Homo sapiens: one gene and its partner. The protein of the gene in region 1 interacts with the protein of each later gene in a biochemical or structural test. Each region holds a gene or a part of one and is shown in the gene's direction. Other genes may lie near its edges.

Evidence for each region.
Region 2: the proteins of BCL11A (region 1) and NR2E1 form a complex in vitro, tested with the Homo sapiens proteins (one study listed by BioGRID).

Annotation. Positions count from the first base shown.
Region 1 is NC_000002.12:60,458,239-60,469,336, reverse strand, and holds part of BCL11A (BCL11 transcription factor A), read left to right. Parts: intron 1-503; coding exon 504-605; intron 606-6,912; coding exon 6,913-8,933; 3' UTR 8,934-11,098. UniProt on the Homo sapiens protein: Transcription factor. Associated with the BAF SWI/SNF chromatin remodeling complex. Binds to the 5'-TGACCA-3' sequence motif in regulatory regions of target genes, including a distal promoter of the HBG1 hemoglobin subunit gamma-1 gene.
Region 2 is NC_000006.12:108,181,014-108,191,395, forward strand, and holds the end of NR2E1 (nuclear receptor subfamily 2 group E member 1), read left to right. Parts: intron 1-532; coding exon 533-638; intron 639-6,287; coding exon 6,288-6,450; 3' UTR 6,451-7,792; downstream 7,793-10,382. UniProt on the Homo sapiens protein: Orphan receptor that binds DNA as a monomer to hormone response elements (HRE) containing an extended core motif half-site sequence 5'-AAGGTCA-3' in which the 5' flanking nucleotides participate in determining receptor specificity.

The DNA of each region.
Region 1 (11,098 bases):
AAAGCAAAGTGGGACTCTGTCCCATAAAAAACGATTCACAAATCTACTCATTTCCTATCAGCATTTTGCTTTTTGCTTGGGTTTGTCTATAAAGTAAAGTTAATGTATGCATGTAAACCAGCCTTGCAGATAAAATCCCCCCATGTTTCCAGGCTACCCACAATATTACCAGTTTTCCCCTTGCTGCTTACACATCTTCTTTCCACAAGACAATAATCAAACAACAACAAATAAATAAGCAAATGAACCAAAGACCACCTCTCCCCTTTCCTAAAACAAACCCTTTCACTTTTGTCAAAAAGACCGAAATTGAAAACAAAACAGAAACTCTGGGAAATAACTCACCACTCTTCTTTTGTTTCAGGCCTTGGGCCTGTTAACTATCTGCAAGGCTGTTGTAATGATGTTGTAATCTATTTTAATGGAATTGAAATGTGATATCCTGTGGTTTATGATGCACGTTGTTTGTAGCTGTAGTGCTTGATTTTGGGTTTCTTTCACAGATAAACTTCTGCACTGGAGGGGCCTCTCCTCCCCTCGTTCTGCACATGGAGCTCTAATCCCCACGCCTGGGATGAGTGCAGAATATGCCCCGCAGGGTATTTGTAAGTTGAGCCTTATTTCTTCTACAAATGTCCATGTGTATAGAGATGAGAATTTCTGGAAATTGCCCTTACTTTTTAAGTACTGAAGGAGTTACTTCCAAAATAGATTGTCATATGTATTATTCCATTACTCACTTGGCAGCCGCTCCCCACTCCACTCAGCCCCAGAGGGACTTCTTCCCTCCCCTTTTTCTTTCCTCACTGGAGGCTGGGAGCTGATAGTAGCTCATCCCTGTGGGTCTTCTCCCCAGGGTCTTGTCTTGCTCCGTGGCTAGTGATTGAAGATGCCTGTGCCTCTGGAGCCCATTTTATTACTGGACATTCACTCCTGTGGCCTCATTTAGGACTTTGGGTATAGTCCATGGCACACATCTTTAGCCAAGGCCAGAATCAAAAGGAGTCAGTTTAGGGTTATTCCAGAGTTATTCCAATGCATATTCCTTATGTATTTACATGTGTATTTGAACATAGTATATGTTGTATATTCATGCCCACACATAATTTTGACTAATTTTTCTCCTGGTTTTAGAGAAAAATGCACATCATTGTAGTTAAAATGTGAAGGCTCTACTATCACCACCACCACCACCACCATCACCACCACCACCACAACCACCACTGCCACCATCACCACCACCACCACAACCACCACCATCACTACCACCACCACCATCACCACCAGTACCATCACCACCATCACCACCACTACCACCACCACCACCATCACCACCACCACCATTACCACCACCATCACTACCACCACCACCATCACCACCAGTACCATCACCACCACCACCATCACTACCACCACCACCACCACCACCATTACCACCACCATCACTACCACCACCACCATCACCACCAGTACCATCACCACCAGTAGCATCACCACCACCACCACCATCACCATCACCACCAGTACCATCACCACCAGTACCATCACCATCAACACCACCATCTCCACCACCACCATTACCACCACCATCACTACCACCACCACCATCACCACCAGTACCATCACCACCAGTACCATCACCACCACCACCACCATCACCATCACCACCAGTACCATCACCATCATCACCACCATCACCACCACCACCATTACCACCACCATCACTACCACCACCACCACCATCACCACCACCACCATTACCACCACCATCACTACCACCACCACCATCACCAGTACCATCACCATCACCATCACCACCAGTACCATCACCATCATCACCACCATCACCACCACCACCATTACCACCACCATCACCACCACCACCATTACCACCACCATCACTACCACCACCACCATCACCAGTACCATCACCATCACCATCACCACCAGTACCATCACCATCATCACCACCATCACCACCACCACCATTACCACCACCATCACTACCACCACCACCACCATCACCACCACCACCATTACCACCACCATCACTACCACCACCACCACCATCACCACCACCACCATTACCACCACCATCACTACCACCACCACCATCACCAGTACCATCACCGCCATCACCACCACCATCACCACCACCACCACCACCATCACCACCACCACCACCACCATCACCACCAACACCACCATCACCACCACCACCACCACTACCACCACCATCATCACCACCACCACCACCACCACCACTGCCACCACCATTTACTTGTTCAAGTGAGCTTTTATAGTAGGGACCATTTTATGAAACTTAAATTTGTCCATTTATACAAATGTTTTCTGAAAGATACTGTTTTAGAAAATAATACAGTTTGCTTCTCTGTGTAGGAACACATGGTATGAATCATGCATGGCTAAAAGGTTAGGGGGTGGGCAGTGATTCCACCCTAAACACAAAAAAGCAGGTTCAAGAAGAAAAGAAGTGTGACATCTAATTTTTATTTGAAAGTAAATGAAAAATAACCTGCTGTGGAAAGAAAAAAAAAGAAAAGGAAAAAGGTCATGGAGAGAGAATAACAAAGAGCAAGATGCCAGAGTTAAGGCTCTAAGGGGGACTGTTTTTAGATGGGAGGGAGATGACACTTACCCATCTTGTAAATGGTATCTGAAGAGCAGGGCATGCACCCTGAGACCAGATTCAAAGCCAGTTGTTTATTTTTGTTAACTCCTAGGTAATCCTAGGTAACAAAGAGTTATTGTGTGAATTTCATAAGCCCTCAGGTCCTGAGGGCTGGGTGGTTCAGGGGTTAAAAGCACCTCATCTGCTCCCTTCCCCCAAGCTGGGCCTAAGCCTGGGTTAGGTCACAGATTGCAGAAGGTTTAGGAGGTTGGGCTCACGGTTTCTAGTCCCTGCATGCTGGCTGGGTGGGGAGAGCTCTCCTGTTGCTGGGGGCATCTGGGGCCTGCATGGGGCTGTGGAAACGGAGCCACTTTTGGAGGGAAGGGATAGAAGGGAGTTGAGCAGTTCAGAGGAGGGTGGAGTTGAGAGGCCAAGGGCTGTTGCCAGGGAAACATAGTTCTCGGTCTTCAGCCTGGTCTTCCTGAGGGCTGGGAGTTTGATTTGACTGGTAGGAAAGTCTGAGCTTGATAGGGAACCCCTGTCCTCTCCCACCTTCCCACAAAGGGAGGGTACATAGTTTGCTGGTGCCCCTGCTGGCAGGACCAATTTAGGAGTGACCAGAACAAGGTATGTGGAAGTGGGTTGTGGGGGTCCAGAAAGCTCTAGAACAAACCTGATGCCCATTCCACTTGGCGGCATTAACCTGCTGCCCCTGGCTTCCAGAGCTCATAGCACTTCCCTGTGGCCACTCTGCTGTGTGCCAGTCACCCCTGCTCTTTAACTAGAGCCTCCTTTTGGCCTGGGTTAAGGCCTGGACTGGGACCTTCCTCTGGAAGCCGTTCGGGGTGTGTAATGTGGTTAGTCATTACCCTCAGTAATTAATCACCCCTGGTAGTAATGAAAACTCACATTCACATTCGACCTGATAGTTTACAGAGGGCTTTTATATACTTCTGTCATTTGAACTTCCCAACAATTCTTACAGGTACTGTTTTTATGCTCATTTTACAGATAGGAATTCCAAGACTCAGAGAAATCAAATGACTATCCCAGAGTTACAATCTAGTGGATAATAGAGCTAGGCCTCCAGTCTCAGACCTCCTTGTTCTTCTGAATCTTGAGGCTTAGATCACATGACTTTTTCACATTGGTGACATACTAGAAATGGGGGTCATTCCTTCCCATAAAGTAAAATGAAATAAAATAAAAGCCAGTAGGTGGGCTAATAGCTGATTTTAACCCTTTTGATGTCTCAAGTTCCTATGCTTAGGGGCCAGGTGTCAGTTTATTGCTCTAAATCAAAACAATCCCCGTAAATGCCCAATGAGGCTCTCAAATTGAGAAGTTGATTTTCATCAGAGTAAATGAAGAATATTATTATATTTTACACATCAATAAATCAATGTAGCCCTAATTTTGCCACACAGGAAATCAATTCCAGTCTTTCTAAATCATCAAAGATGTTATGAACAAAGTAATTTCACAAATTATGGCAAGTAACACATTTATTGATGACTGCAGTTTAGGAATTTAGAATCTGTGAGCACTGTAATATAATATGGTACACCGGCATGAGCTGAGTGAAATACAGATTATATGGTGAAATTGTAATGCATCATTTGCTATTAGTGGACTGGTAATAATTACCAGTTTCAAAGCAGCTCTCTCCATGTAATCTTTAGTCTCAATCGTAACAGCCCTTCTCATTGACATTATGATTACACTAGCTGCCCTCATGATCTAGAATATCTAGTTGATGGGAATACTAAAATGCGATAGTGAAAACTGTATGTTGTATGCTCATTATAAGATAAAATGCCATTTTCTCTGACCTGATGTATGAGAGAGAGGGGAGGATAACATCACAGTGTTAACATACTGTAGCATGATCACATAACTGGCTCTGAAAAAAAGTTTAGGATGCTCAGGGCAGCAAAATAAAATGGACTTTTCTCATTTAAGCCTTTTTGAAAGGATACAAATGAGATCCTTGATGTAGTGCTGTATGCCACAGATTTTGGCATTTATCAATGACTACAATTCATGGCACATGTGAAACCAGCACCACTAATTATGAGTCTAGTCCTGGATTTCAATCGATGTTTTATAAGGTAAAATATAATTTTAAGGCATTTGGAGTGATGAACGTGTTAAGGACTTGGATTATCAGACAAATCTTTTTACTTGCCCAACTCAGATCGTCAGGCTAAATAGGAATGATAGTCACCCAGAGATCTAGGGAGGACAAGGAGGAAGCCACAGAGGATCATGTAGTTGGAACCAGATAGTTTTTTTTCCAGCCTATTTGGGACCCAAGTTATTGTTCAACAACAACAAAAAATTTATAAAAATGTTCTCAATGAAGCTTTTTATTTCCCTTTGAAGAGAGGAGGCAAACAAAAATAGGCAGATAATGTGATACTAATGTCAGCGTTTTCTTTCAAAATCTTTCTGCCTTTTTTCCCCCTTCCACATTAGACAAATGTTTGAAACCTAATTTTGGTATCTTACCATCTAATCTTGTTTAAGAGATTTACCCAGGAGTGAGATATATTGAGTGGGATTATAAATGCGTTGTAAAGTAAATTACAAGGTCAGGGCAGGAGTCCATTATTTAGACAAGTGCTTGAGCGAGGCTGGCTTATTTTGGAATACCAGTGTTTGGGGGCTCCTGAGAAGACCCTGCCGGCTTTTCTTTCTGACTTGCTAAATGGAGGCATCATATAATTGATTAATTCCTCATTCTCACTCTTAACCTCCCTGGTAGATTTTTTTTTTTTTTCCTTCTTAGAAAGTTACTGACAAATACTAGCTGTGGCCTTAAAGAACTCTTGCAGCCCTTCTTTTAAAAGAAGGAGAAAAGTTTGTTATTTCTCAGTTATATTTTAAGGCTTTTTTTTTCAGAATCTCTGGGAAGTTTTGTTTTTCTCATCCTCGTCCTTTGGCTACCATTACTTCTGCCCTTTTTAATGTTGCAGTTGACTAGTAAACTGTTGGTCAGTTATTCCATATATATATATATTTAATGTAGCTATCTCCCCATATATATTTAATTTAGCCATCTCCCCAAATGAAATATTTTGTGAAGTCAAGCTGGCCCTTCTTTGCCAAAGTGGCATTTACCACTCTTGGGTTCTTTTCAGCAAGGGAAATAATGTGACTTAAGCAGGGCCCCTCTCCAGACGGCTTGGCTACTGGCCAGAGTTGACTAGCTGAACTGTATCTTTCTGTTTCTTTCTCAACTGGAGCTGAGTCCCAGCCGAGGGCGCAGGATGTTGTATAATTTGGTTCACGTTGTTAGCCTCTCAAAACAATGAGGAGGAGGATAGTGTAGCATTTCTCAGCCTGCTGCCTGTCATGGCGCTGGCTGTTTTAACTGTTCCTTAAACTAGGATGCTGTGTCTGCTTAAGTCGGCACCAGCCACTCCTCCTAACTTTTCCAGACTTGCATTTGTCTGACCGGGGGACAACTCCTAAAGATTGGATACAGCCTATCCGTTAAATCTGAATGAAGTTTTTCTTTCAGATTTTTTAAACATTCTTTGAGATAAAAATGGACGTCCCCATGGGGTGTTGTGGAACCAAAATTGGGACTCACTGATCCTCCCACAGTCTGGGGTGTGAGAATGTTGCTAGTCTTTTTTCCACGGAAGTATTTTATGAGTACCCTCTCATTTTAACAATATCAACAATTAGTGTGTTTCAGGCTAATGCTGAAAGCATCTTTAGGGCCATAGAACATTGTAGTGAGTTGACCTTCTTCCCCTTTTTTGATACCTCTATGAAATGTTTGCCTATTTAGAAAGTTCACCTGTCACCCAGGGGGGAATAGAAAGCTGGGATTTAGGAAGCCAAAAAGTTTCCTTGGGTCACCTTGTCCAAGTTTCTCACTTAACAAGGAGGAAACAGAGGCACATGGAGATGAGATGGCTTGCCCCAAACTACAGCTGATGGAACTGGAAAGTTTAGAAGACATTTGTTGAGGTGCCTAGAATGTAGGGACCTTCATCCTCAAGCCAGAACTGGTCAGGATTTTTCTGCTTTGGGGATTGGATATAAAATTTCTAGAACTGAGTTTAATGGCAGGAAGATCAATTGGACCAATATTTACTGGGTACCCATGCTCAGACGTGCCAGGCACAGGGGGTAGGTCAGTGAGGGCTTAGGCCTTGGGGTTGAGGGGTGGGGGCAGGGAAGGCTGGAGGTGGAACATAAATAAGCAATTGCTGATGCCCGCCTCAGTGATTAAACATTGATGTTGGTGTTGTATTATTTTGCAGGTAAAGATGAGCCCAGCAGCTACACATGTACAACTTGCAAACAGCCATTCACCAGTGCATGGTTTCTCTTGCAACACGCACAGAACACTCATGGATTAAGAATCTACTTAGAAAGCGAACACGGAAGTCCCCTGACCCCGCGGGTTGGTATCCCTTCAGGACTAGGTGCAGAATGTCCTTCCCAGCCACCTCTCCATGGGATTCATATTGCAGACAATAACCCCTTTAACCTGCTAAGAATACCAGGATCAGTATCGAGAGAGGCTTCCGGCCTGGCAGAAGGGCGCTTTCCACCCACTCCCCCCCTGTTTAGTCCACCACCGAGACATCACTTGGACCCCCACCGCATAGAGCGCCTGGGGGCGGAAGAGATGGCCCTGGCCACCCATCACCCGAGTGCCTTTGACAGGGTGCTGCGGTTGAATCCAATGGCTATGGAGCCTCCCGCCATGGATTTCTCTAGGAGACTTAGAGAGCTGGCAGGGAACACGTCTAGCCCACCGCTGTCCCCAGGCCGGCCCAGCCCTATGCAAAGGTTACTGCAACCATTCCAGCCAGGTAGCAAGCCGCCCTTCCTGGCGACGCCCCCCCTCCCTCCTCTGCAATCCGCCCCTCCTCCCTCCCAGCCCCCGGTCAAGTCCAAGTCATGCGAGTTCTGCGGCAAGACGTTCAAATTTCAGAGCAACCTGGTGGTGCACCGGCGCAGCCACACGGGCGAGAAGCCCTACAAGTGCAACCTGTGCGACCACGCGTGCACCCAGGCCAGCAAGCTGAAGCGCCACATGAAGACGCACATGCACAAATCGTCCCCCATGACGGTCAAGTCCGACGACGGTCTCTCCACCGCCAGCTCCCCGGAACCCGGCACCAGCGACTTGGTGGGCAGCGCCAGCAGCGCGCTCAAGTCCGTGGTGGCCAAGTTCAAGAGCGAGAACGACCCCAACCTGATCCCGGAGAACGGGGACGAGGAGGAAGAGGAGGACGACGAGGAAGAGGAAGAAGAGGAGGAAGAGGAGGAGGAGGAGCTGACGGAGAGCGAGAGGGTGGACTACGGCTTCGGGCTGAGCCTGGAGGCGGCGCGCCACCACGAGAACAGCTCGCGGGGCGCGGTCGTGGGCGTGGGCGACGAGAGCCGCGCCCTGCCCGACGTCATGCAGGGCATGGTGCTCAGCTCCATGCAGCACTTCAGCGAGGCCTTCCACCAGGTCCTGGGCGAGAAGCATAAGCGCGGCCACCTGGCCGAGGCCGAGGGCCACAGGGACACTTGCGACGAAGACTCGGTGGCCGGCGAGTCGGACCGCATAGACGATGGCACTGTTAATGGCCGCGGCTGCTCCCCGGGCGAGTCGGCCTCGGGGGGCCTGTCCAAAAAGCTGCTGCTGGGCAGCCCCAGCTCGCTGAGCCCCTTCTCTAAGCGCATCAAGCTCGAGAAGGAGTTCGACCTGCCCCCGGCCGCGATGCCCAACACGGAGAACGTGTACTCGCAGTGGCTCGCCGGCTACGCGGCCTCCAGGCAGCTCAAAGATCCCTTCCTTAGCTTCGGAGACTCCAGACAATCGCCTTTTGCCTCCTCGTCGGAGCACTCCTCGGAGAACGGGAGTTTGCGCTTCTCCACACCGCCCGGGGAGCTGGACGGAGGGATCTCGGGGCGCAGCGGCACGGGAAGTGGAGGGAGCACGCCCCATATTAGTGGTCCGGGCCCGGGCAGGCCCAGCTCAAAAGAGGGCAGACGCAGCGACACTTGTGAGTACTGTGGGAAAGTCTTCAAGAACTGTAGCAATCTCACTGTCCACAGGAGAAGCCACACGGGCGAAAGGCCTTATAAATGCGAGCTGTGCAACTATGCCTGTGCCCAGAGTAGCAAGCTCACCAGGCACATGAAAACGCATGGCCAGGTGGGGAAGGACGTTTACAAATGTGAAATTTGTAAGATGCCTTTTAGCGTGTACAGTACCCTGGAGAAACACATGAAAAAATGGCACAGTGATCGAGTGTTGAATAATGATATAAAAACTGAATAGAGGTATATTAATACCCCTCCCTCACTCCCACCTGACACCCCCTTTTTCACCACTCCCCTTCCCCATCGCCCTCCAGCCCCACTCCCTGTAGGATTTTTTTCTAGTCCCATGTGATTTAAACAAACAAACAAACAAACAGAAGTAACGAAGCTAAGAATATGAGAGTGCTTGTCACCAGCACACCTGTTTTTTTTCTTTTTCTTTTTCTTTTTTCTTTTTCCTTTTTTTTTTTTTTCCTTTATGTTCTCACCGTTTGAATGCATGATCTGTATGGGGCAATACTATTGCATTTTACGCAAACTTTGAGCCTTTCTCTTGTGCAATAATTTACATGTTGTGTATGTTTTTTTTTAAACTTAGACAGCATGTATGGTATGTTATGGCTATTTTAAATTGTCCCTAATTCGTTGCTGAGCAAACATGTTGCTGTTTCCAGTTCCGTTCTGAGAGAAAAAGAGAGAGAGAGAGAAAAAGACCATGCTGCATACATTCTGTAATACATATCATGTACAGTTTTATTTTATAACGTGAGGAGGAAAAACAGTCTTTGGATTAACCCTCTATAGACAGAATAGATAGCACTGAAAAAAAATCTCTATGAGCTAAATGTCTGTCTCTAAAGGGTTAAATGTATCAATTGGAAAGGAAGAAAAAAGGCCTTGAATTGACAAATTAACAGAAAAACAGAACAAGTTTATTCTATCATTTGGTTTTAAAATATGAGTGCCTTGGATCTATTAAAACCACATCGATGGTTCTTTCTACTTGTTATAAACTTGTAGCTTAATTCAGCATTGGGTGAGGTAATAAACCTTAGGAACTAGCATATAATTCTATATTGTATTTCTCACAACAATGGCTACCTAAAAAGATGACCCATTATGTCCTAGTTAATCATCATTTTTCCTTTAGTTTAATTTTATAAACAAAACTGATTATACCAGTATAAAAGCTACTTTGCTCCTGGTGAGAGCTTAAAAGAAATGGGCTGTTTTGCCCAAAGTTTTATTTTTTTTAAACAATGATTAAATTGAATGTGTAATGTGCAAAAGCCCTGGAACGCAATTAAATACACTAGTAAGGAGTTCATTTTATGAAGATATTTGCTTTAATAATGTCTTTTTAAAAATACTGGCACCAAAAGAAATAGATCCAGATCTACTTGGTTGTCAAGTGGACAATCAAATGATAAACTTTAAGACCTTGTATACCATATTGAAAGGAAGAGGCTGACAATAAGGTTTGACAGAGGGGAACAGAAGAAAATAATATGATTTATTAGCACAACGTGGTACTATTTGCCATTTAAAACTAGAACAGGTATATAAGCTAATATTGATACAATGATGATTAACTATGAATTCTTAAGACTTGCATTTAAATGTGACATTCTTAAAAAAAGAAGAGAAAGAATTTTAAGAGTAGCAGTATATATGTCTGTGCTCCCTAAAAGTTGTACTTCATTTCTTTTCCATACACTGTGTGCTATTTGTGTTAACATGGAAGAGGATTCATTGTTTTTATTTTTATTTTTTTAATTTTTTCTTTTTTATTAAGCTAGCATCTGCCCCAGTTGGTGTTCAAATAGCACTTGACTCTGCCTGTGATATCTGTATCTTTTCTCTAATCAGAGATACAGAGGTTGAGTATAAAATAAACCTGCTCAGATAGGACAATTAAGTGCACTGTACAATTTTCCCAGTTTACAGGTCTATACTTAAGGGAAAAGTTGCAAGAATGCTGAAAAAAAATTGAACACAATCTCATTGAGGAGCATTTTTTAAAAACTAAAAAAAAAAAAACTTTGCCAGCCATTTACTTGACTATTGAGCTTACTTACTTGGACGCAACATTGCAAGCGCTGTGAATGGAAACAGAATACACTTAACATAGAAATGAATGATTGCTTTCGCTTCTACAGTGCAAGGATTTTTTTGTACAAAACTTTTTTAAATATAAATGTTAAGAAAAATTTTTTTTAAAAAACACTTCATTATGTTTAGGGGGGAACTGCATTTTAGGGTTCCATTGTCTTGGTGGTGTTACAAGACTTGTTATCCATTTAAAAATGGTAGTGGAAATTCTATGCCTTGGATACACACCGCTCTTCAGGTTGTAAAAAAAAAAAACATACATTGGGGAAAGGTTTAAGATTATATAGTACT
Region 2 (10,382 bases), on another chromosome or scaffold:
TCAGCCACCTCGAAGTCTGAACTGACCTTTGCAAAAAGAGGTGATGGTTTTCAAGGGAGCTGATACTCTTAATCTGGCCCCATTTTTTATTGCTATGGGAACCTGCATGTTCTGCTGGGCATCAACTTCCAGAGAGGTGCATTCCCAGACCCAATTTCTTTTTTTCTTTCTTTTTTTTTATTTTTTAAATTTTTGTGGAGATGGTGTCTTGCTCTTGTCACCCAGGCTGGAGTCCAATGGCACCATCTCAGCTCACTGCAACCTCTGCCTCCTGGGTTTAAGCAATTCTCCTGCCTCAGCCTCCCAAGTAGCTGGGATTACAGACACATGCCACCATGCCTGGCTAATTTTTGTATTTTTAGTAGAAACAGGGTTTCACCATGTTGGCCAGGTTGGTCTCGAACTGCTGACCTCAAGTGATCCGCCTGCCTCGGCCTCCCAAAGTGCTGGGATTACAGGCGTGAGCACTGCGCTCGGCTCCCAGATGCAATTTCTATGCTGTCTATCACAGTTTCCTGGTCTTCATTTCTAGTTCCTACACATAGTGGTTCTGAACTGAGAAGTTTCCGGAATGCTGCCGCCATTGCAGCCCTTCAAGATGAGGCTCAGCTAACGCTCAACAGCTACATCCATACCAGGTGACCCTTGTTTGCCTTGAACATGTACTTAAGAAAATTGCCTCCATTGTGAATGCCTGAGCAGGCGGTAATAAGCCAGTTCAAACATTGTGACTAATTATCTTGTTGCCAGCCAGTTAATTTAGGGAGAATCCATGTCCTTACCTATCTCTCAGGGTGGGTGAGAGGAGCAAATCTAATTAGATGATCAAAGTGAAAGCACTGCCAGACATATTACAGTTGTCCTGGCGGAACAAATTGATCCATCAAAATAATGGAACAACATTTGTGTGAATGGGTATGGAGGGGTCAAAAATGAAGCCTAGGCTGGGCACAGTGGCTCACGCCTGTAATCCCAGCACTTTGGGAGGCCGAGGTGGGTGGATCACGAGGTCAGAAGATCGAGACCATCCTGGCTAACACAGTGAAACCCCGTCTCTACTAAATAATACAAAAAAATTAGCTGGGTGTGGTGGTGGGCACCTGTAGTCCCAGCAGCTACTCGGAAGGCTGAGGCAGGAGAATGTCGTGAACCTGGGAGGTGGAACTTGCAGTGAGCCGATATTGTGCCACTGCACTCCAGCCTGGGCGACAGAGCGAGACTCCGTCTCAAAAAAAAAAAAAAAAAAAAAGAAGCTCAAAGTGTAATGGTTGGTATGTGAGAGAGTGGCCACATCATCCTTGAGAAAACACAGGTGACTTTCTTCAGATGCCAATCTCAAATAAAAGGATGAGAGAACTTTCCAGAGAGGCTATCTTTTTTTTTGAGACAGGGTCTTGCTCTGTTGCCCAGGCTGGAAGGCTGAAGTGCAGTGGCATGTGAGCATGGCTCACTGCAGCCTTGAACTCATGGGCTCATGTGATCCTCCCACCTCAGCCTATTGAGTAGCTGAGACTATAGGTGCATGCCACCACACCCAGCTAATTTTTTTTTTTTTTTTTTTTTGAGACAGAGTTTCACTCTTTCACCCAGGCTGGAGTGTAGCGGTGCAATCTCGGCTCACTGCAACCTTCGCCTTCCGGGTTCAAGTGATTCTCCTGCCTCAGCCTCCCAAGTAGCTGGGATTACAGGTGCCTGCCACCACGCCCAGCTAATTTTTGTATTTTCAGTAGAGACGGGGTTTCACCGTGTTGGCCAGGCAGGTCTCGAACTCCTGAACTTGTGATCTGCCTGCCTTGACCTCCCAAAGTGCTGGGATTACAGGTGTGAGCCACCATGCCCGGCACACCCAGCTAATTTTTAAACTTTTTATAGAGACAAGGTCTTGCTATGTTGCCCAGGCTGGTCTCGAACTCCTGGCCTCAAGTGATCCTCCCACCTAAGTCTCCCAAAGTGCTGGGATTACAGGCCTGGGCCACTGTGCCCAGCCTAAAGAAGCCATCTTTTCACCTATCATAACTGTTGTTTGGCCTTGGTGACTGGTATCTGTTATTTTGTGTCATAACATCTACCAGGTTACTTCTGGCCATGCAGGGCCCACAGGCAGAGGCTGTTTTTGGCTGTTTGTAGGAACTCTCAGAGACTGGGGCTCCAACAAAGCTCCTCCTGGCCCAGCACTGGGCAAGCCCATTAAGAAGTATAGACTGGGGGCTGAGGTGGCTCCACACCTGTAATCCCAGCATTTTGGGAGGCCAAGGCAGGCAGTTCACTTGAGCTCAAGAGTTCGAGACCAGCCTGGGCACAACATGGCAAGACCCCATCTCCACCAAAAATTTAAAAAAAAAAAAAAGAAGAAGTGTAAATTTTATTATGCCATTTAAAAAAAAAGCCAGGCTTTTAAAGAGAAATGGAAACTTTCTAGTTTCCTGAGTTAGGACTGGTAGATTTGAAGTTAGAATAGAGTTACTCTTCTCTAGGCTGATTTGAAAGGAATCTGTGAAAGCTCAGCTCCATAATCTCAACATCAGCTATAGACACTGTGGGGGGAATAAATACATCAAATGGGTAGAGGCTGTTAATGCCTCCCTCAACTAATGGGTCAGAGAAATCCCAAGTCAACTCTGTCCATTTGGGGTGATACCACTTCTGCTAGAGTCTCTCTATTTCTATCGTAAACCTCTTTTGAATACTAAATGAATAAAACTGTTCCCTGTCTATGGAATATCACTGAAACTATGTTGACAGATAGTGCACCTGTATATGTTTTTTCAAATTAAAATGCCAGGATTTGAATTTTAAATGCATATTGAATTACAGAATATATATAGTAGGCAGTTAATATTTGTTCAAATTTATTAAATGGAGCAGTACATAATCTGGGTACTTCTACTGACTTGTAGGCCGGGCACAGTGGCTCACACCTGTAATCCCAAGCACTTTGGGAGTTCAAGGAGGGCGGATTACCTGAGGTCAGGAGTTCAACACCAGCCTGGCCAACATGGTGAAACCCGTCTCTACCAAAAATAGAAAAGTTAGCTGGGCGTCATGACGTGCACCTGTAGTCCCAGCTACTCAGGAGGCTGAGGCAGGAGAACTGCTTGAAGCTGGGAAGTGGAGGTTGCAGTGAGCCGAGATTGTGCCACTGCACTCCAGCCCCAGGTAACAGAGTGAGTGAGACTCCGTCTAAAAAACAAACAAAAAAATTAAAAAGACAAAAAAACAAAAACAAACTAACTTGTATGTCCTAACTGACCTTTGACATTTAGAGCCATTATGGTATTAAGAACTTAAAAATGAGAAGGACGTGGTATCCAGTTATTGATCCAGTCAAGCCTTTGCCGAGTACTGGCCACATGCAGGGCTGCAGGTGGGCGATATGGGATACCAGAAGGAGCAAGACACTGCCCCTTATCATTGCAAGAAGTGGGCAGCAGTGTCACTCCAATCCAAACTAGAGAAGAGAGGAAAGCAATGTGGGGAGTGTGACAGATGAATCCTAGTCAGAGGGAGTGAGGGACAATCAGAAAAGCTCAAAGTCTGATGGGTGGAGGAAAGAACATGTGAATTGGTCCTTCAATGGGAGGAGGATTTCAGCAGGGGAGAAGATGTGTCCTGAGAGTGGTGGAGGAGCTGGTAGGGGTCCTGTGGGAAGTGCCAGAGAGGTGAGTGAGGAGGGGAGCCTGGTGTGCCAGGAGCTGCTGATAGGGTGGCCCGAGAGAATTCAACCATGGGTTAACAACAGCCTATTTTAGAGAAATGGCAAGTAAAGTACATCTCCCCAACACCGCAAAAGAAGAAAATTATGTGTGGAAAAAACACATCTGCTTTGCCATGGAATTCTTATTATTTCTATTAAATATTAGAATAGTAAATATCAAATAAGTATCTTATTTCTTATTAAATAATGGAATTATGGAATTTCTTATTTCATGGAATTCTTATTTCATTCTGATATCAGCTACAGCTGTAATTTAATATTTATATCTAGGGTCATACATGTGACAAAAATGACTATGCCTTATTTCTTAGCCCTTCAAATCAGTGAACACTTTTTCCTCCAGCACTTTCCTGTCTAGAAAAATAAAACCTGAACTTGAAATGAAAACTTAACATGCAAACTGAAACTGAGCCTAATTGTATATTACAGCTCTCTAAGCTATTTCTCTAATTATCGAGGACGTAAGGAGAAGGCTAGGAATTGACATTCCACACAAACTATATTCTATAACTGAAGATCAAATATGCAAATCTGTAATAGACCTAAAACACTTAAACCTAAAAGAAAATCCAATTATTGATGCTAATGGATGAAGACAAGGGCATAGATATTCTAAAAAATAATTTTGATTAGTCAGACCTTCTCTCTCTAACACACACACACACACACGCACACACACATACACACACACACACACACACACATTGTTTTTGTTTTGGATGCCCAGGCTGCATTGCAGTGGTGCAATCATGGCTCACTGCAACCTCTGCCTCTGAGGCTCAAGCAATTCTCCCACCTCTGCCTTCTGAGTATCTGGGACTACAGGTGCCCAGCGAATTTTTGTAGAGATGAGCCCTTGCTATGTTGCCCAGGCTCATCTTGAACTCCTGGGCTCAAGCGATGCTCTTGCCTCAGCCTCCCAAAGTGCTGGGATTACAGGTATGAGCCACCACACCTGACCTCATACATTGCTATTGTTTCTGGTAGTAGTACAGTATGCTATATGTAATAGACAATTAATTTTTGTTGACTGACTAACCAACCCTTTCCCAACTAAAGAATAAAATAAGTGGGAGAGTAGATGAGTGGGTAATCTAATCGCAGAAAATCAGGAGTTGGTTGTCTATAGATTCCCCCAAATTCATCCTTTCTGAAGGTGATTATTTCTCACAGTGGTTTCTCACCACGGGAAATGTTCAGCATGTTGGGTGGATGCTGCAGATGGCAGAGGTCGTCCAGGCAGCCACTGCCTCCGACTTGCTGAAGAATTATCTCTACTATGCCTGGTCCTGGGAAGGGAAATAGAGCTGTTGAAAAGAAGTGGCCAAGGTGAAAGGGAGACACGGATTTGGGGATTACTTTCCAAGAAACATTAGAAATACATTAAACAAGGAGAACAAGTGGTAGGATTTAAGTATTTTTTTTTAATGCAGGTAAGCTTCACCATTTCCACACCACACTACTAGATGTGGTCTGGTGGCCCCTATCTGCAGGTGGTCATGAAGCTGGGCAGTGAAAGAGCCAGCTGAGGTCCTGAGAGGCCCAGATGAACTATAAGCCTTGTATTCTGTGGAAGTGAAGGACTCTTATGTGCCCAGAGCTAAATATTTAGACAAGCATGAAAGTTGCTCCCCTGAACTTTATTTGCAGGGTGGAGTTATCAGGCAGTTAAACACAGCCACCTGACTCCTTCGAAGGAATTTTGATATCCCTTAGCTTCTAGCACCTTGTGGCCTGGGTTGAACCCAGCTTAGTCACAGATGTGTATCCCGGAAGTTCAGGTTTTAGGTGTTTCATTTCAGTGGAGGGAGCTCTCCTTATGTATATTGATATCTAATTCTAACTATTGGCTGAAGAAGTATCAGGGCTGCAGTGAGGAGGTGGCTTGCAGGCATCTAAAGGCAGCAGAAGATTGAACTTGCACATCTGAGCACAGATATATGTTGGACATCAAAAGAGGAAATTGTTAAGCAATTTCTCACATCTTTAATTACATGCCAATTTCATTGACATGAGAGTTGGGTGGCACTGCCACCCAACAGAACTTAGTCTTTAATTTGCAGTGTAATAAGGATGGAATTATTCCTGAGAGAGACTAAGTATAATGCCTGAATAATAATTTGGAGAATTGCTTAGAAAAAGAAGCCATTTTATTTGAGGGAAATAGCCTTGAGGAGTCCTTAGAATTAGAAAACATGGGTTCTGTTGCTAGCCTTATCCTCAATGCCCTGGTCGTTTTCTATAATGGAAACCTTAAATTTATTATTTGGCTTAAAATTAGTATTATGCTTCTTAAATTTCTTTTTTTTTCCCAAACAAAATGCAATCCATTTGTTAATGTAGAGAGGGTGTCCGTGTGATTTTGGCAGCATCATTTATGGTCTCCCTGCCTCAAGTAGTCTACCTGCAAAACGGGGACAACAGTGCCTGTCCAGAACTTTGCTGCAGGGATACTGTGTTATTCAAGAGACCTAGATCAGCAATGCTGGAGATGATGTGTGTTCAAGTGTAAGACGTTAGTTTCCATAAGTAATGGCCTCTGACCTTGTTTTCATGGCTTCTCACATTCCAGATATCCCACTCAACCCTGTCGCTTTGGAAAACTCCTGTTGCTTTTGCCAGCTTTACGTTCTATTAGCCCATCAACTATAGAAGAAGTGTTTTTCAAAAAAACCATCGGCAATGTGCCAATTACAAGACTGCTTTCAGATATGTACAAATCCAGTGATATCTAAGCTCACAAGATACCCACTTTTCAGGATGGGACAGTATCAGATGAACTTCAACCCATGGAGAACAAGCCTCAACTAACAAACCCTTCAGGAAGCATATACCGGGGAATGTGTAGCCTTCAGGAAAAAAATGCCAATTGACACAAAGCATTCCAGTAGCTATGACCTGCCGCCCTGACCAGGATAGGGCGGGTGGGAAGGAGAGGGGTGCAACAGGACCGCCTGCACTGAAAACTCACTGCTGCCATGCCCTGGGAGGGGGCAAACTGGGGGTTGCCACAGGCCGTGCCATTCTGCCTCTTACCTGGAAGATCAGGCTGAACGATCAAAAGCTGAAACATAAGTAGTGCTTTCTCTTCCTTTTTAGCATACAAAGTTTGGTAACCAAATATAGCTCTGTGTATAACATCGTACTGCGGCCTTCAAAACTACGTTATGTTGGAGCATTTATTTTAAAAATAATGGTAGGTTTTAAATTAAAAGTGTTATCAAAAGTTTCCCCTCTATTGTAATACATTATTAAGTGGCCTTCAGAACTGAGTTAATAAGTGAAAAGTAGCTTATGCCATGTGATTTGCTTTTTCTCTATCTTCTTTTTTCTTTTCTTTCTCTTTCTTTTGTTCTTTCTTCTTCTTTTTTAATACCATAGGCCAGGCAACCTTGTCAAAGGAATTGATGGACAAAATGAGATTCTCACCAGGACTTCAGGTTGGATAACATGTCAAAAAGAGAAGAGCTTTACTAAAAGAACATAAGTCAAGGGAGGATGAATAAAAACAGCAAAACCAAATAAAGTGGAGATGAGTGATTGAGTGAGGTAGATTGCTGTCCCGTTAACATAGTGCTGAAACCAAAGGCAGTGGGGGTCCAAACTCGTGGTGCAGCAAGTCACACCAGACAGGAAACGAATATGGACGTAATTGCAGAAGGAACTTCAAGGAGATGAATGAATGCTAAAAGGGTTCTTGACTGATCCATTGCTAACAGCCTGAGACTCTTCAATGCCTTTCCGAAAACTGGTTTCTAGTAAAGCCTTGAATGAACACACACACACACACACACACACACACACACACACACACACACACACACCGTCCTACACTTTAAGCTGCTCCTTTGGTATGACTCTATACTTATGGAAATGTAGAAACAAACATTTTTAAATAGCTGCTGTACTTTTCACATTTTGATTTATTAGGTACTAGCACTGAGGAAAAAAAATTCAGCACTTGGACTATCATAGGATGAGTAAAACTTTTCTTGTACAAAGTGAATTAACTGATTTGTGAAGTTAAAAGGTTGTACTCATTGTATTTACAAAGAATAAAAATATATTGAATTTAAATGAACTCTTTCTGATTTCTTACCCTCCCTCCCTGGCTGGTTCTCACCCACCAGAAACAAGGTAGGGGCAGCAGCTGGTGTTAAAACTGAAGCTCGGAGCACTCCAGCACAGAGCCTGCAGAACTGAACTACAAAGGCAATTTCCTTCTTACAGTGAATACCATTTGGAAAATGATGAATAAAGAAATAAAACGTAAGATTCTGTTCTCTACAGCTCTCAAATGTAATTGCATCTGTTAGAAAAATTGCTGTGTGAGGAGGAAGGAGGCCGATTAACAGAGTCTTCATTCCTTCCTCTGTTTCTAACTCTCTTGCCAACATTTCAATCCTGACCAGTCACTTGAAATCATTTAATGATCAAAAAGATAAAGTATGATAAAGTTCATATGGTGAGTAAGATGTGGAGGGAGCAGTAGAAATGTCATCCAGATGTTCCCAGCAAGTCTTAAGGCACCGGTCCCACAAGCAAAGGCCATCAGAGGTGCCCAAGGCCACAGGCACTGTAGACTCCTTTTGGGTGGCAGCTCCAGCAAGAGATGCTTGTGCCTCTGCTCTTGCTAAAATGGTCTTGCGGACCGTATATGTGAAATTTCAATCAGCTGTGCACTTCTTGTCTACTTATTCTACGGAGAATGAGAATTGGTCTTAAAGAAAAGCACAGTACTCAAAGACTGTGTAAGAATGTCCCTTGCAACACTGTTCGTATTTAACAACTTTAGTATCCATTGACAGATAATAGGTACATTGTGGTGAATACAGACAATGTTACCGTAGGCAAAGTGAATGGCTAGAGCTAATGTATCAACATGGGTAAATCTGAAATACAGTGTGTTTGTGTGTGTTATGGGGAAAGTAAATTGCAGAGGGCACATACAGCTTGGTATCATTTATATAAAGTTTTACAACCTACAGAACAATACTAGACAATGTTTATGGGCATATAAATGTATAGGAAACATTTAAAACAGGCATGAGTATTATAAACACTAACTGCTGGATAGTGGCTACTTCCAAGAAGAGATGGGATGGGTGAAGGGTATAACAGGACCCTCAAATGTTTCTGTAATGGTTAATTTCATAAGAAAAAAATCTCAAACAAATATGAGATGAATGACAAGATTTAGTAAAGCTGAGTGATGGGTCCAAGGCTGTTCATCTGTGTATCAGTCAAGTTTTCCTTCAATAATACTGAATAACAAACATCCCTCAAAGCTTACAGCAACAAACTCTTATAACTTGCTCACAGGACTGCCAGCCTCATGTGGCTGTGCAGGGCTTGGCTGGGCTCAGCTGGAGCTGACTCCAGGCTATAGTTTGGGTTTAATATGCTCCAGGGAGTCTGGGGGAGGTGACTCACACCTATAATCCCAGCACTTTGGGAGGCTGAGACAGGCAGATCACAAGCCCAGGAGTTCGAGACTAGCCTGTGCAACAAGGTGGAACCCAGTCTCTACTAAAAATACAAAAAATTAGCCAGGTGTCGTCATGTGCACCTGTGGTCCTAGTTATTTGGGAGGCCAAGGTGGGAGGATCACTTGAGCCCAGGAAGTCGAGGCTGCAGTGAGCTGTGATCATGCTACTGCACTCCAGCCTGGTGACAGAGTGAGACCCTGTCTCAATAATAAATAAATAAATAAGCTTCAGGGTTTCCTCATCCTGGACTAGCAGCTTTCCTAGGATAGCTTCTTTTCATGGCAACGTGCAGAAGTGCAAGAGGCTGATGCAAACACATTTACAGCTGCTACTCACTTCACATTGCTTACTTTCCCCCGGCCACAGCAAGATCGATGGTCAACCTTCCCAACCTTAAATGGGCAGAGAAGTGCACTCCTCCCGTAGAGGTGGAGTGAGGAGAGAAGATTCACTGAACTATAACAAAATCTAGTACAATCACAATCTACTTTAGTCTATTATAAATATTCTCAGGAAAATTAAAAGGGAGTAAGATTCTTGTGACAAGCCACAGAATACTGATTCCTACTGGGATTGCTTTTCTTTTGGGCATCTCTGTCATTATTTAAAAAAAAAAAAAAAAGCAAGCCTGGCTTTCAACATTTGAGAAGGCCCAGAATTTAAAGCTCAGTAGCAGATATTCTCTATGGCTGGTGTTGTGGGGGAGGCTCAACAGTGGTCCGTGAATACACAAGTTCAAGATATACAATCCAAATGGACAAATAAGAGATGCATTCAGCCAAATGATTATTCCAGTAAGAAAGAAAAAATTGTCTTCAATGCTTCTCCTTTTTTTTTTTTTTTTTTTTTGACAGAGTCTCACTCTGTCTCCCAGGGTAGAGTGCAATGGCCCGATCTCGGCTCACTGCAACCTCCACCTCCCGAGTTCCTGGATTCTAAGTGATTCTCGTGTCTCAGCCTCTGGAGTAGCTGGGATTGCAGGGGTGCGCCACCACGCCTGGCTAATTTTGTGTTTTTAGTAGAGATGGGGTTTCCCCATGTTGGCCAGGCTGGTCTCAAACTCCTGATCTTAGGTGATCCACCCTCCTCAGCCTCCCAAAGTGCTGAGATTACCGGTGTGAGCCACCATGCCCAGCCTAATGCTTCTCCTTTGATAAATGTTTTTTCTAAATCTTGGA